4 linked regions of the Homo sapiens genome follow. The protein of the gene in region 1 purifies or fractionates together with the protein of each later gene. This does not show direct contact. Each region holds a gene or a part of one and is shown on either strand. Other genes may lie near its edges.

What was found. Proteins that work in one complex are often made in the same cells at the same time.
Region 2: the proteins of SLC8A2 (region 1) and MYH14 purify together in Homo sapiens (affinity purification with mass spectrometry; one large-scale study listed by BioGRID and IntAct). This does not show direct contact.
Region 3: the proteins of SLC8A2 (region 1) and MYO1B purify together in Homo sapiens (affinity purification with mass spectrometry; one large-scale study listed by BioGRID and IntAct). This does not show direct contact.
Region 4: the proteins of SLC8A2 (region 1) and QSOX2 purify together in Homo sapiens (affinity purification with mass spectrometry; one large-scale study listed by BioGRID and IntAct). This does not show direct contact.

Annotation. Positions count from the first base shown.
Region 1 is NC_000019.10:47,469,094-47,473,024, reverse strand, and holds the start of SLC8A2 (sodium/calcium exchanger 2 precursor), read left to right. Parts: upstream 1-1,131; 5' UTR 1,132-1,236; intron 1,237-3,931. UniProt on the Homo sapiens protein: Mediates the electrogenic exchange of Ca(2+) against Na(+) ions across the cell membrane, and thereby contributes to the regulation of cytoplasmic Ca(2+) levels and Ca(2+)-dependent cellular processes.
Region 2 is NC_000019.10:50,206,622-50,210,121, reverse strand, and holds part of MYH14 (myosin-14), read right to left. Parts: intron 1-3,500. UniProt on the Homo sapiens protein: Cellular myosin that appears to play a role in cytokinesis, cell shape, and specialized functions such as secretion and capping.
Region 3 is NC_000002.12:191,416,404-191,419,903, forward strand, and holds part of MYO1B (unconventional myosin-Ib), read left to right. Parts: intron 1-3,500. UniProt on the Homo sapiens protein: Motor protein that may participate in process critical to neuronal development and function such as cell migration, neurite outgrowth and vesicular transport.
Region 4 is NC_000009.12:136,243,013-136,246,992, reverse strand, and holds the start of QSOX2 (sulfhydryl oxidase 2 precursor), read left to right. Parts: upstream 1-1,180; 5' UTR 1,181-1,189; coding exon 1,190-1,517; intron 1,518-3,980. UniProt on the Homo sapiens protein: Catalyzes the oxidation of sulfhydryl groups in peptide and protein thiols to disulfides with the reduction of oxygen to hydrogen peroxide. May contribute to disulfide bond formation in a variety of secreted proteins.

The DNA of each region.
Region 1 (3,931 bases):
TGTAGAATCTGGAGCCATATTTACCACCTCATGCCTTGGTTTCCCTGTCTGTAAGTGAAGCTCATAATAGCATTTACCTAAATTTATAAAAAACATTAGAACATGCCAGGTGCGGTGGCTCTCACCTGTGCGGTGGCTCTCACCTGTAATCTCAGCGCTTTGGGAGGCCGAGGCAGAAGGATTGCTTAAGCCCGGGAGTTGGAGACTAGCCTAGGTAAAATAGTGAGACCCCGTCTCTTAAAAAAAATGAAGAGAAAAAAAGCCTGGCGTGGTGGTGGTGGGCACCTGTAGTCCCAGCTACTCGGGAGGCCAAGGCAGAAGGATCGCTTGAGCCCAGGAGTTGGAGACCAGCCTGGGTAACATGGTGAGATCCCATCTCCTAAAAAAAAAAAATGGAGGGAAAAAGCCTGGCGTGGTGGTGGCGGGCACCTGTAGTCCCAGCTACTCAGGAGGCTGAGGCAGGAGGATTGCTTGAGCCCAGGAGGTTGAGGCTGCAGTAAGCCAAGATCGTGCCACTGCACTCCAGCCTGGGTGACAGAGTGAGACCCTGTCTCAAATAATAATAATGTGCTGCCGATGCCAGGCACGTGGTCAGGGCTGCCTGTATGTATGGCAGCTGTTGTTATTCTTATTAATGGGTGTCTTTGTGGTTGTTTCTGGCCTCCTTTGTGAGGCTGTGCAGGCACAGTATGTGAATTTGGATCTGACTCCAGCTAAACATTCTTGCCCTCCCCCTAGTTCTGTAAGTCTGTAACTATTTGTAGCTGTTGGCCCTTGTATGGCTGGGAGACTGCGTGCGTGTGTGTGTGTGCGTGTGTGTGTGTGTGTGTTGGGGGGCGGGGGCTGCTTCTGAAACACACAGGAGCGCCCTCCGGTGCTGTCCCCTGCCTCTGGTGCTGAACCCGGAGGCTGGGGAGGAGGCTCGGGCTCCCTGCTCCCCCAGGCCCCTCCCCGGGCCTCCCCCCGCCTCCCGCACCGCCTTCCCTCTGCCCGCCTCCGCCTCCTCCCCCTCTCTCCGGCTCCTCCCCCTCCCTCGCTCCCTCGCCGCCTCCCCCTCCCCCGTGTCCCTCCCCTCTCCTCTTCTCCTCCCTCTATCCCCTCTCCCTCCCCTCCTCCCCGGCTCTCCCTCTCAGTCTCAGGCTTTTCTCTCTCTCAATCTCTCTCTCTCTTTCGGGCGGAGTCGCCCACCACTGCCAGCCCAGCGCTGGGGGGACCTGCTCCAGGCTGTAGCCGCAGGTAAGAGACCCCATTGGTGGGGAGGTGGGGGCGTGGGAAAAGGACGGGGTTACCCCAGGTGCGGAGTGGGGGCGGTTCGGGAAGCCTGGAGCTGGCTTCCCTGGGCTGGTTTATGGAGGTGGGGGGCTGCCTGGCCCAGCACGCGTACCTTCTGTGGGGTGGGAGTGCCACCAGCCGCCCCAACACCTTCAGTCCCTCCTGGTTCTCGGGCGGCTGGGGAGGGGGACCGCCTGGGTACTGGGGGGCGAGGACACCCCGCCCCCACCCCGTCTGGGGCACCCCCCCTCGCGCTCTCTACCTCTGCCCCCGCCTTCCTGTGTCTGGGTCTCATCTTTCTGTCTCTCCACATGTCTCAGGGGTCTCTGTCTAGCAGAGTCTGGCCGCCTCTGGGAGTCCCTGTCTCTCAGTCTCTCACTCCTGTCTCCCTCTCTCTGTGTCTCTGTGCCGGGGTCTGTTCGGAGTCTCTCTGGGGCTCTGTCTCTAAGTCCTGGGTTTCTCTCTCCTTTCCTCTTGCGCCATCTCTGTTTCTCTGTGTCTCTGTGTCTCTGCCTCTCTCCCTTGTCTCAGCTTTCCTGTGTCTCTCTCTGTCTCTGCTTTCTCTGTGTCTCTGTCTCTTCCCATGTCCGCATGTCTCTCTCTCTCTCTCTCTCTCTCCCTCCCTCCCCATCTCCCCCTCGTCTCCATCTCTGTCTCTGGATATCTCAGTCTCTGTTTCTCTCTCTCTTTCCTCTTCTCTGGCTCTCCCTGGGAGCCAGTGCACCCTCCTCCCACACACCTTTGTCTCCGCCCCTGGCAGGGGGGACCTGGAGGAATTAGACCCCCCCACCCGCAGAGTGGGCTCCCCCAGGCCTGGAGTCCTCTAAACTCCTCTCCCCACTTCAGCAGAGCTCCCCTGCTCTCTCCACTCCTCCCAGCCGGCACCCACCCCAGCTCTCCCCTGAGGACCGAGCCCACCTCCCCCTGCCTTGTTTCTGGCGTTCTGAGGCCGGTCCTTCTTGCAGTTTAACCGGTAGCCTCTGTAGTAGAGATGAGACCAGACCTCCCTTCAATCTAACCTCCCCAGTCTTCCTCGTGTAACTGGACCAGTCCTTCCTGCCGTCTCACTTCCATACCTCTTGCTGTTTGTCCAGCTCTTGATTCATTCATTCTTGTTGATAATTACTGAGCGCCTTTCCTGCTCTGGGCAAGCACTAGGTACTGAGTTAGACCGGGCCAGTCCTTCCTGCAGTCTCACTTCCATCCCTTTCCTGGTGTGCCAGCCTCACACTGTCTCAGTGGGGGGTGCTGAGAGGGCCCTGGCCAACACACTGTCTGCCTTCCTTGAGAGAAGGGGGCCCTGGAGAAGGTGGGCAAGAGAGTGAGTGATGGCGAAAAGGTACGAGGCTGTGCCTGTAGCCCTGGTGTGTGTGTGTGTGTGTGTGTGTGTGTGTGTGTGTGTGTATGATGTCTCCCTGGCTGCAGGTGAGGTCCCAGCCCTGTGTGACAGTGCCCACGGAGGGGGCTTCAGATGGCTTTAAAGAGCACTAGGTTAAGAGCCCTGTTCCTCCTCTGGGCCTCAGTTTACGTATTATCAGTGTATCACAGCCTCGAGCACCCAAGCTCTGTGGTGTGATCCCCACACTGGACCATTTTGAGGTGATGGGAGCGCCTGCGCTCATGCTGGGGCAGTAAATGTGCATGTTTAGAAGTCTGAGTCCCCAGCTCGGTCCTGCAAGGGCCAGCCCCCCAACACAGGCACAGTCAGAAAAGCACCCTCCCTTGCCGCCCCACTGTGGGGTGGTAGCGTGAGGGATATGAAGGACGGGTCTTACCTGGCACGCCAGACTGCACCCACCCCCAGGCATGCAGTCCTGTTCTTCTGATCAAGGACCTAAGAGGCACGTGAGGCAGAACAGGGGTGCTCACTGCCGACCCAGCTGGCCGCACGCCCACGAAGGGAGGGAGAGATGGCCCTGGGAGACGGTACCTGCCATCTGCCCTCCCCGCTCCCACCCTGGGCTCCACCTGATCCTTTTGCCCCTGGATTCTAAAAGCAGATTGGGTTTCAGGGCTGCTGGTGGATGGAGAGGGAGAGGCAGGAGCCAGGAGCAGAGGGAGCCCACGGTCCCTGGTGACAGGGCTCAGACCTCTTGGTCATTCATTTCACAAATATTTATCTAGTGCTTTCTCTCCCTGACTGCTCCTCTCGCAAGGCCCCAGCGAGAAACCAGGTTTTGCAGGAAAAAGGGATTGCACTAGGCTGTGCTTGACCCAGCCCCTGGGCTAGGAGGGTGGACATGAGAACCCGCATCACCTGGCTGTGGTCTCTCTTGAGGACTGCAGCAGGAAGGACAGGTGGTTAAACCTGAGGGAGGACTTCCCAGGCCGAGGCTTCCTCCCAGAGAGAGCGGGGTTTGGTTTGATGCTTTAGAAGAATTCCTGACTCCCGGCTGGCCCCTGTTTCTCCTGAAAGCCAGGGAGGCGGAGGGAGAAGGGAGCATGAGCCTTTGCTTTGGATCCTGGTGGGTTTGTAATTATGCCTAAGTTGTTGCTAATTAGGGGGCTGCTAATTAGACGTATCATTAGGGGCCTTGCTGAGGGGGCTAATTGTGCGGTGGCCCTTTAAGAATCACCCCTCTCCCCCACCCTTGCCTGCACACACACACACACACACACACACACACACACACGCACACAGGCATGCTCCTCGCTTGCT
Region 2 (3,500 bases), 2.7 Mb from region 1:
TTTTTTTTTTTTTTTTTTTTTTTTTGAGACGGAGTCTCGCTTGTTGCCCAGGCTGGAGTGCAATGGCGTGATCTCAGCTCACTGCAACCTCGGCATCCAGGGTTCAAGTGATTCTCCTGCCTCAGCCTCCCAAGTAGCTGGGATTACAGGCGTCTGCCACCACGCCCAGCTAATTTTTGTATTTTTAGTAGAGACAGGGTTTCACCATGTTGGCCAGGCTGGTCTCGAACTCCTGACCTCAGGTGATCTGCCTGCCTCGGCCTCCCAAAGTGCTGGGATTATAGGCATGAGCTACCACACCCGGCCCCGGCTAATTATTTTCTTTTTTTTTTTTTTTTGAGATGGAGTCTCACTGTGTCGCCCAGGCTGGAGTGCAGTGGCACGATCTCGGCTCACTGCAAGCTCCGCCTCCTGGGTTCACGCCATTCTCCTGCCTCAGCCTCCTGAGTAGCTGGGACTACAGGCGCCTGCCACCATACCCGGCTATTGTTTTCTATTTTTAGTAGAGACAGCGTTTCACTGTGTTATCCAGGTTGGTCTCGATCCCCTGACCTGGTGATCTGCCCGCCTCGGCCTCCCAAAGTGCTGGGATTACAGGTGTGAGCCACCGCGCCTGGCCAATTATTTTCAATTTTTGTAGAAATTAGGGTCTCACTATGTTGTCCAGGCAGGTCTTGAACTCCTGACCTCAGGTGATCCACCCTCTTCAGCCTCCCAAAGTGCTGGGATTGCAGGCGTGAGCCACCACTCCTGGCCAGGCTCAGTTCTGGGCACTGACAATGGAGCAACAGACAAGCTGGAAGAAGACGCCTGCCTCCAAAAGTTTACTTTCTAGCCCCGGGCTGTCCACTGCAGAAGCCACCACCACCTGTGCACTACCGGGTACTTGCAATGTGGCATGTGTCACTGAGGAAACACATTTTCAATTTCATTCATTTAAATTCAATCTATTTTATTTTATTTTGAGATGAGGTTTCACTCCGTTGCTCAGGCTGGAGTGCAGTGGTACAACCACGGCTCACCACATCCTTGACTTCCCAGCCTCAGGTGATTCATGTCTGAAATTTATTAATTAAAAAATAAATGTATTAACAGGCATGCCACCATGCCTACTAATTTTTAAATTTGTTTTGTAGAGACAGGGTCTTCTATGTTGCCCAGACTGGTCTCAAACTCCTGGGCTCAAGCGATCCTCCTGCCTTGGCTCCCCAAAGTACTGGGATTACAGGTGTGAGCCACCGAGCCCCATCTTAAAATTTAAATATAAATATCCCCATCTGGAGTTCTAAGTGTAAGATACACACCAGATTTCCAAGACTTAGTACAACAAAAAGATAGTTTGCTGAGATTTTAAATATTTGATGACATGCTGAAATGATAATATTTTCAATCTACTGGGTTAAATAAAATATATCATTAAATTAATGTTACCCGTTCCTTTTTTACTTTTATCATTAAATGTGGCTACTAGAAAATGTTACATTACACATCTGGCCTGTATTATATTGCTATTTGACAGAGCTGCTGTAATCCCAGGAGACAGATAAAAAGATTAAAAATGTAAATTAGATAGTATGGTTTTTGTTTTTTAAAAATTCTCTCTCTCTTTTTTATTTTTTTACAGAAACCAAATATGGTATGTTTGGTGGGTTTGTTGGGTTTTTTTGTTTGTTTGTTTGTTTGTTTGTTTGTTTGTTTTTGTTTTTTGAGACAGAGTCTTGCTCTGTCACCCAGGCTGGAGTGCAGTGGCTTGATCTTGGCTCACTGCAACCTCTGCCTCCCGGTTTCAAGAGATTCTCCTGCCTCAGCCTCCCAAGTAGCTGGGATTACAGGCGCATGCCTCTATGCCTGGCTAATTTTTGTATTTTTAGTAGAGATGGGGTTTCACCATGTTGGCCAGGCTGGTCTCAAACTCCTAACCTCAGGTGATCCGCCCGCCTGGGCCTCCCAAAGTGCTGGGATTACAGGCACGAGCCACCATGCCCGGCCAGATAGTACATTAAATGGTGATAAATACCAAGGGGAGGAATAAACCAGGGGACAGGAAATGTTAGGGTTGAGGATGTTGAAGTTTTCATTAGGGTGGCCAGGGAGGGCCTCTCTGGTGTGGCATTTAAATGAAGACCCAAGGGAGATGACAGGAGCGAGGAAGGGGGTTGTTGGGAGAAAAATCATTCCAGACAGCAGTGCAAAGGTCCTGGGGCCACAATGCATCTGTGTGGCTGTGTCACTGTGAGGTAGGCAGCATGGCTAGAGCCAAATGATCGAGGGGCAGAGGGTGGGAGGGGATGTAAGAGAGGGGACAAAAGGTACAACCTTGCTTTTACTCTAAGATATGAGCCCAGGGTGGGAATTGACCTGATTTTTGTCATTCAGGTTCCCTGACCACCTCTGGTCACGCCTATCTCATGCCTGCAGAATAGACTCGAATCTCACTGCTTCAGTGAACAATTCCTTCCTTCTCTGGAACCTGACTCCTTCTCCATAAAATGGGGAGACTGGACCCATTCATTCAACTCTCTGAGGACTTTCAAGTACGAGACTCCGCCCCGAGTGGGCCTGAGGACCCAGAGAAGAGTAGGCTGGGAGCCCTGCCTGGAGGAGCTCCTGGCCTAGGGGTGGATCCAGCTCCAGCTATCTCGGAGGCAACCAGGTGCTGGGGGAACTAGAATGTGTTAGGCCCCTCCCACCATCCAGCGGGCCATGGGCAGTAGTGGCAATTCCAACGCGGTCCAAGCACCAGGCAGGAAAAATATTCTCCCTATCCTGCTGCGTGGCCCCCTCCTGCTAAAGAAGTCTGCCCCTAGTCTCTCTCTCTCTCTCTCTCTCTCTCTCTCTCTCTCTCTCTCTGTCTCTCTCTCTCTTTCTCTCTCTCTCTCTCTCTTTTTTCTTAGAGATAGGTCTCGCTCTATTGCCCAGGCTGGAGTTGGAGTGCAGTGGCACAATCACAGCTCACTGCAGCCTCAACTCCTGTGTTCAAGTGATCCTCTCACTTCAGCCTCCTCAGTAGCTGGGACCACAGGTGCGCACCATCAGGCCCAGCCTTTTTTTTTTTTTTTTTTTTTTTTTCTGGTAGAAACAGGGTCTCCCTATGTTACCCAGGCTGATCTCAAACTCCTGGGCTCAAGTGATCCTCCTGCTTTGGCCTCCACAGTGCTGGGATTACAGACATGAGCCACTACGCCCGGCCCCTACTCTCATCCACTGCCTCAAATGTCCCCATCACTGCCCCACCACATCAGTCACAGAAACAGTGGGAGATTTCTGTCTCCCCAACAGCAGGACTTCACCTCTGCCCGATAGACCTATATGCAACTGCCGTCCCCACCTCGCTCCCACATACCCCTGGAGAAGTCCTTCTAAACGCCCAGCTGCCCTGGAGGCCCCCCTGGATCTGGTCCCAACAGACTCCTGCCTTTCCCTCAAGCCTCTCCCACGGGAATCCCAGCTCCGCTGAGAGGACCCACTTCCTCCCAGACCCTCTCCTCCCATCCCCAAGC
Region 3 (3,500 bases), on another chromosome or scaffold:
CTCCAACCTCATGTACCTGACATCCTAGTGGAAGAGACCAGTATGTACAAATAAAATGATGAAATAGTTGATAAGATTTTGGCTAACAAGTGTTTATGGAGGAAAAAAAGGGTTAAGAGTCAGAGAGTAGGCCAGGCGCAGTGGCTCACGCCTGTAATCCCAGCACTTTGGGAGGCCGAGGCAGGCGAATCACGAGGTCAGGAGTTCGAGACCAGCCTGGCCAACATGGTGAAACCGTCTCTACTTAAAATACAAAAAAAATTAGCTGGGCGTGGTGGCGGGCGCATGTAATCCCAGCTACTCAAGAGGCTGAGGCAGGAGAATCTCTTGAACCCGGGAGGCGGAGATTGCAATGAGCCGAGATCGTGCCACCGCAATCCAGCCTGGGTGACAGTGTGAGACTCCGTCTCAGAAAAAAAAAAAGAGTCAGGGAGGCCTCTTTGATGTGGTGACATCTGAGACTGGTATAAATTTGAAATTTGCTTCTTCAATTTCTCATTAGGGTTCTGAATATAGAAGTTAGTTATTTGCATACAGGTTGGGGCATCCCCAGATTTATTGTATCTATCTATGTAAGTGTTTTGGAGAAATCTGAGTTACTGTGTTGATTATACTTAATTGGTTACCTTTCAATAGATTGTTTACCTGCTTATATACTTCTTTGCATGTCTAGATTGCTCAGGAAATTATATTCTTTTCTAATTAAGAATTTTCTAGTCTATTCTGTTTCAACTCTTCCTAAAAGTCTTTCTAAAATAAATTTACACCCATTTCTGCCCCTTTGTAAGTCAGACTCTCTTTGATATGTTAGGATTTTGCAGTGCTGTGGGCTTTTCTTAAGTTCTCATTGAAGTGTTTAGATTTGGGTGGGAGGTTGGGCTTCATGTATACTCTATATTGGAAATTGCTGTTCGGACTAAATAACTTTTCTTGTTAATGAGATCTTTCTCATAAAGAAATTAGGAAAAAAATAATGGTTGGTGTGTTTCAGTTAAGGATTTAACACGTTAGGGCCTATTAGAGCTTTAAAATCCCTTTATAATAGTTGAAGTTTTTCATAATCTGGGAGAATGGGCTTTGGTGGGGCTGCTAATTCTCACTCACCATGGGAAGATCGTATGTATCCCAGACAGCAGAAGCTCCTCAGTGTACAGACGAAGCAGTCTCATAGTTGTCCCACTATGTGAATAAACTCATCTTTACACAGAAAGGAAATCACACCAACATCCAGACCACAAAGTACTGCTATTTTTAAGCATTTCCCAAACCGGGATTCTAGGAACATTGCTTGTACAGGATGCTAATAACGATGTACTGTGAAAAAATTGTTCTCTGATGGAAATTTAAAATCTTTCTTCACTACATTACATCTCAGAGTCCCTGAAATCTTGTTGTGATTCTCCTGAGGAGCTTTGCGGGGATAGCGTGTGGCGTGAATCCTAAACATAGTCAACCACAGAGCTCCTTCAGCAGCTCTCACAGCTTGTGTTCGAAGGTGTGCCATCTGGGAAAGGGGGACAGTTCGCTTCTGGGCAGCAAGGGCCCTGCCCTGTCACAGAGGGCGTGTGATGTTCTGGATGCCATAAGCTTTCAGTAAACAGTTGTCTGAGCGAAGATTTATAATGTGGCCACATGAAGAAAACAAACATTGGGTAGCATTATAATGCCTTTCATTCTCCAGTGCCTAATTATTGATTGGTCTCATAAAAATAAAACAGTTCATAGGACTCTACATAGCACCCGTGGGTCCCTTCCCCAGGTGGCACAGGAAGCCTGCAGAGGAAGTTTGTAGGTAAGGATCGTAAATCTCCTTAGGGAGCATTTTGAATTTAAACGAAAATGTCCAAAGTCATAGGCAGGGGCGCCTGTTCCTTTATGTGTCAGCCCTAAGTGGCTTCGCTAGCTCTATAGAACCAGTGTTGAAAACCACATGCAGTTTAGTGACTAAGCCCTTCCTTGCTTTTTCCTTCCCAGAAGTAGAAGTAGTTACTCTAACAAACCTAGATTCTGTAATCATTATGGATAAGTGGATGTCAGTTTATGGAAAGAGAGTCAAAGTCCTGTTTACTCTTTAGTGGATTTTTTTTTTTTTTTTTTTTTTTTGAGGCAGAGTTTCGCTCTTGTTGCCAAGGCTGGAGTGCAGTGGCACGATCTTGGCTCACCGCAACCTCCGCCTCCCGGGTTCAAGGGATTATTCTGCCTCAGCCTCTTGAGTAGCTGGGATTACAGGCATGCACCACCACGCCTGGCTAATTTTGTATTTTTAGTAGAGATGGGGTTTCTCCATGTTGGTCAGGCTGGTCTCGAACTCCTGACCTCAGGTGATCCGCCCCCCTGGGCCTCTGAAAGTGCTGGGATTACAGGCGTGAGCCACCGCGCCCAGCCTGTTCAGTGGAATTTAAACTTGTACATATAGAAGTGAGAATTGAATTCATTCAGAGATTCAGCTGCCTTATAGTTTCTAGTCCTTAAACTTCTAAGCTGTTCAATGTGTAACTAGATTGCATTTTAAGGATAACCTGCAAGATGTGTAATGCAGTTATGCACCACATAATGACATTTTGGTCAGCAATGGATTGCACAGATGACGGTGGTCCCCTAAGATTGTAATGGAGCTGAAAAATTCTTCTGTCTATTGATGTCACAGGTGTTGTAATGTTATAGTGCAAGGCACTACTCACATGTTTGTGCTGCTGCTGGTGTAAACAAACCTACTTCACTGCCAGTTGTCTACAAGTAAAAGCACATACAATTATGTACAATATGTAACTCTTGATAATAAATGATGTTGTTACTGGTTTATGTATTTATTATACTATACTTTTTTTTTTTTGAGACTCAGTCTTGCACTGTTGCCCAGGCTGGAGTGCAGTGGCGTGATCTCGGCTCACTGCAAGCTCCGCCTCCTGGGTTCATGCCATTCTCCTGCCTCAGCCTCCCGAGTAGCTGGGACTACAGCTGCCCGCCACCACGCCCGGCTAATTTTTTGTACTTTTAGTAGAGGTGGGGTTTCATCGTGTTAGCCAGGATGGTCTCGATCTCCTGACCTTGTGATCTGCCCGCCTCAGCCTCCCAAAGTGCTGGGATTATAGGCGTGAGCCACCACGCCCGGCCTATACTGTACTTTTTATCTTTATTTTAGCGTGTATGCCTACATGTTAAAAAAGTTAATAGTAAAACAGCCTCGGGCAGGTCCTTAAGGGGGTATTTCAGAAGGCATTGTTATCTTAGGAGAAGACAGCCCCATGTGTATTATTACCCCTGAAGACTTTCCAGTGGGACAAGACATGGAGATAGAAGACAGTGAAATTGATGCTCCTGACCCTGTGTAGGCCTAGGCTAATATGTTTGTATCTTAGTTTTTAACAAAAAGTTTAAAAAGTAAAAATAAAAAAAATTAAAATTTTAAAAATAGAGAAAAGCTTATAGAATAAGGTTATAAAGAAAATATTTTTGTACAGCTATACAAAGTATTGTGTTTTAAGCTAAGTGTTATTACA
Region 4 (3,980 bases), on another chromosome or scaffold:
TGCCCAAATGCAGGCCAGGGACACTGGGGGCTCGGTTTTGTTCTTGATTTGTCTCCAGGGCTTGGCACAGAGCAGAAGCCAGGAAACGTGGGTGATGGAAGGAAACATGAACAGGGAGACGCAGGACGTGAGGAAAAGGGAGCAGACGCCTTGGCCAGGGGCCCTCTGGGGAGAATCCTCTCATCTGGGGTTAACCATTGTTAGCAGCAAAACCTTTTAAACAAAATCTTACACAGAACCCCACAATACAGTTATCTATTTATTTTGAGACAAGGTCTCGCTCTGTCATCCAGGCTGGAGTGCAGTGGCAGAGTCACGGCTCACTGCAGCCTCAAGCTCCCAGGCTCAAGCCATCCTCCACCTTAGCCCCTCAAGTAGCTGGGACTACAGGTGTGCACCACCATGCCCGGCTTTTTTCTTTTTTTTAAGAGATGGGCTCTCGCTATGTTGCCCAGGCTCGCCCACTCCCTTGTTTTGTTTTGGTCACACAGTTCAGAGAAAATCTTGACATGTGTAAAAATTAGGAATAGGAACAAAAAAAAAAATCAGGTATCCTGTTCAATGAAGCAAAAAAGTCATATGATTTCATTTCCAAACCGTGAAGCTGCATTCGACTGGAACATCCTAAAAGGTAGCACACAACACATCTGACTTTGAGTGGATGTTTTGCTGCATTTTCTAAGCGTTCCAATATCATATTAAAAAGTCGAGGCTGGCTTGCAGACCCTCTGAAGCCCCAGGTGGGGTTGCCAAGTAAAAGAACCCCGGAATAGTTTTTTACGTCTAAGAATGTCTTGTTAAATTTGTATTTCAGGCATGGCACAGACCTAGGCTGAAAAACCGACTCACTGTTTGTCTGAAATTCACGTTGAACCTGGCGTCGTGCACTTCCATTTGCTAAATGTGGCCACCTGGCCCTGTTCAGGGAAGGGGTTTGGGGAACGCGCGGCGGGGTGGGGCGGGGCCTGGGCGGAGCCTGCCGCGCCTGGGCGGGGAGATGGCGTCATCAGACTCTTGGGGGCGGGGCTGCCACGCATGGGCGGGGGCGGGGGCGGGGAGAGAGGGCGGGGTCAGACGTGAGGGGGCGGGGCGGAACAGAACTGGGCGCGCGGGGGCGGGGCCGGGCGCGCCGGCGCACGTGACGGTGGTTGCCAGGGTGAAAGTTCAGCGCGCCGGCGGCACTTCCAACATGGCGGCGGCCGGGGCGGCGGTGGCGCGCAGCCCGGGAATCGGAGCGGGACCTGCGCTGAGAGCCCGGCGCTCGCCCCCGCCGCGGGCCGCACGGCTGCCGCGGCTGCTAGTGCTGCTAGCGGCGGCGGCGGTGGGGCCGGGCGCGGGCGGTGCGGCGCGGCTGTACCGCGCGGGCGAGGACGCCGTGTGGGTGCTGGACAGCGGCAGCGTGCGCGGGGCCACCGCCAACAGCTCGGCCGCGTGGCTCGTGCAGTTCTACTCGTCGTGGTGTGGCCACTGCATCGGCTACGCGCCCACTTGGCGGGCCCTGGCTGGGGATGTGCGAGGTGAGGCGCGCCCCCGCGCGGGGACCCCCCGACCCCCGGGACCGCGGCCTTCCGGGACCCCTTGCGACCGCCCCAGAAGGCGGGTCCCGGGGCCCCTCCCCCGTATTTCTTTCCTTACCGCAGAGCCAGTCCCTGCCCCACAGAGGCACCCGACTCGGACCAACCCTGGCCTTTCCAGGGGCGGGAGACTAAGCCAGCTGCTCCCCATGTCTCTCCCAGTTAATCCCCGTTAGATCCTGACGAGTTGGGCTGTCTGAAGTCAAAATGAAACCATTCTCCCGCAGCCCTCACCGCACGCTTGGGGATAGGGAAGCCCTCCCGTATCCCAGCTCTCAAAATACCTATGTTTTGAGCCCCAAGAACTTCATTGACCTTCCAGGCCTCCTACCCTACCTGTTTCCTAGCGTCCACACACCCCATCCCCAGTGCCCAGAATTCCTGTTCTCTGAGGATCCCTCATTCCTATTCCACACTCGTAGCCACCCCATTCCCTTTGAACCTTCATCATTAACTTTCTGGTTCGGATCGCTGGCCATATAGTGGGTGCTCAAAGTGAACCCACAACTTAGAAGTCCAAATACTCTGGAGACTTCTCTATAATACCCCAAAACAACCTATAAAGCAATTTTTTTAACTCTACAAAGAATTTCATTGGTGGGCTCCTTGATCACAGATGCACAGCCTTTGAGAAATCTTTCACCAAACTGCTGGTAGTGTTCCGCACTTTATTGTTTAGTGCTTTCATCTGGTCGCACGTTGTTAACCAGTCACGAAGTTACTCGCCTGCTCTACAGGTTAGAGTTGGCGTGGGAGGGGGCATTCACAACACCCTTCCCTTAAAATGGTATTTAAATCACTGAAGTAGGAGGTCCTCCCGACCCAGTGAGGTTTGGCAGGACTTCCTGTGTTGTGCTAACCTCAAATTACATGTTTCAGTGGGCAAGATCTGTAACAAATTGCTACTCTTTCTTCCTGCACCTTTGTTTTTATGCCTTACACCCAATCCTGCTGTATTTTTCTCATCGCAAACAGATTTGTAAAGAAACTTTTTTTCAAGTCTAAGTAGGGCTTTTGTATGTTACTGTAAATGGTTATCTTTAAAATGCATTCTCCTCTTAGAGAGCTGGGGCCTTTTGATTCTAATGGATTCCTCCTCTTTGATCTCATGTTTTCTTATGTCCCTGTTGACCTGACTCAGAACTGAGGTCAGAGACTGGAAGAGATGGACAGAAAAACTGTTCAGTGGGGTTTTTAGACACTGCTTTTAGGAAAACAAACAAGTAATTCAATCACGTAGGGAACCCTTCAGTTCTTGTGTGTTATTCAGTGGCAGAAACAGATATGTTCATTAAAATGCAGGTGGCCCTGGCAGGACTTGGTCACTTTTTTTGTGGGTTTTGGTTTTGATTTTTTTTTTTCAGTTGAGTCGCTGAAGTCTAAAGATCGTACCAGATTCAAATATTGCAAATTCTGTAACCGAAGCAGCACATAGGCAGCCTTGAGAACTGTCCCTGGAGCTCAGAAGGAAGGCCCCTCCTGAGAGCCACACAGTAACGTCCATACCCAGTGGTGTGATGAACTCAACTCAGTAAGCCTCCTTTAGTGAGGCTGACTGTCTTCCCAGTCACGACAGGAAGAACAGGCTTGTGCCTGAGACTGAGACTGGAGGAGGATATGGCTGAAAGTGAAAGACAGCGGTGACCTGACCAGGCAGCAGGGAGAGGGCTTCAGGGAGCCCAGGCAGAGGGTCCTGTTGGCTAAAAAGCCAAACTATAAAATACTGAAAGAGGTTTGTTCTGAGCCAATAAGTGTAGTGGCCATGGCCAGGGGAACAGTGTCAAGAGGTCCTAAGAAAGTGTGCTCTAGGCAGTCACGTTAATTTGATTTTATACATTTTAGGGAGACAGAAGTTATAGGCAGAGAGACATAAATCAGTACATGTAAGGTATAGGAAGGGGTAGGTTTACAGATCATAGGTGGATTCTGACTGGCAATTGATTGAAAGAGTTAAGCTTTGTCTAAAGACTTGAAGTCAGCAAAGAGAAATGCTTGAGTTAAGCTAAAGGGGCTGTGGAGGCCAAGGTTAAGTAGATGAAGCCTCACAGGCAGCAGCCTTGGGGAGAATAGAGGGTAAATGTCTCTTTTCAGACCTGAATGCTGTCAGACTCGTTAAATGTCTCCTAGATCCAGGAAAGACCTAGAAAGGGAGGGAGATTCTCTACAGATGCAAATTTCCCTCACAAAAGACAGCTTTGCAGGACCATTTCAAATATGTCAGGGAAATAAATGTATTTGGGGGTGAAATATTTTGATTTCCTGCAGGGTGTGCTATTTGTCATGTGGTGCTGTACCCGAGTCAGGCTGGAGTTTGGTGTCGTTGCTGCTGAGGCTGTGCTGTCTGTCTGTGATCTCTGTTTCATCACGCTGGTCAGCTCTGCCTAAACTCCAAAGGGAGGTGATGTA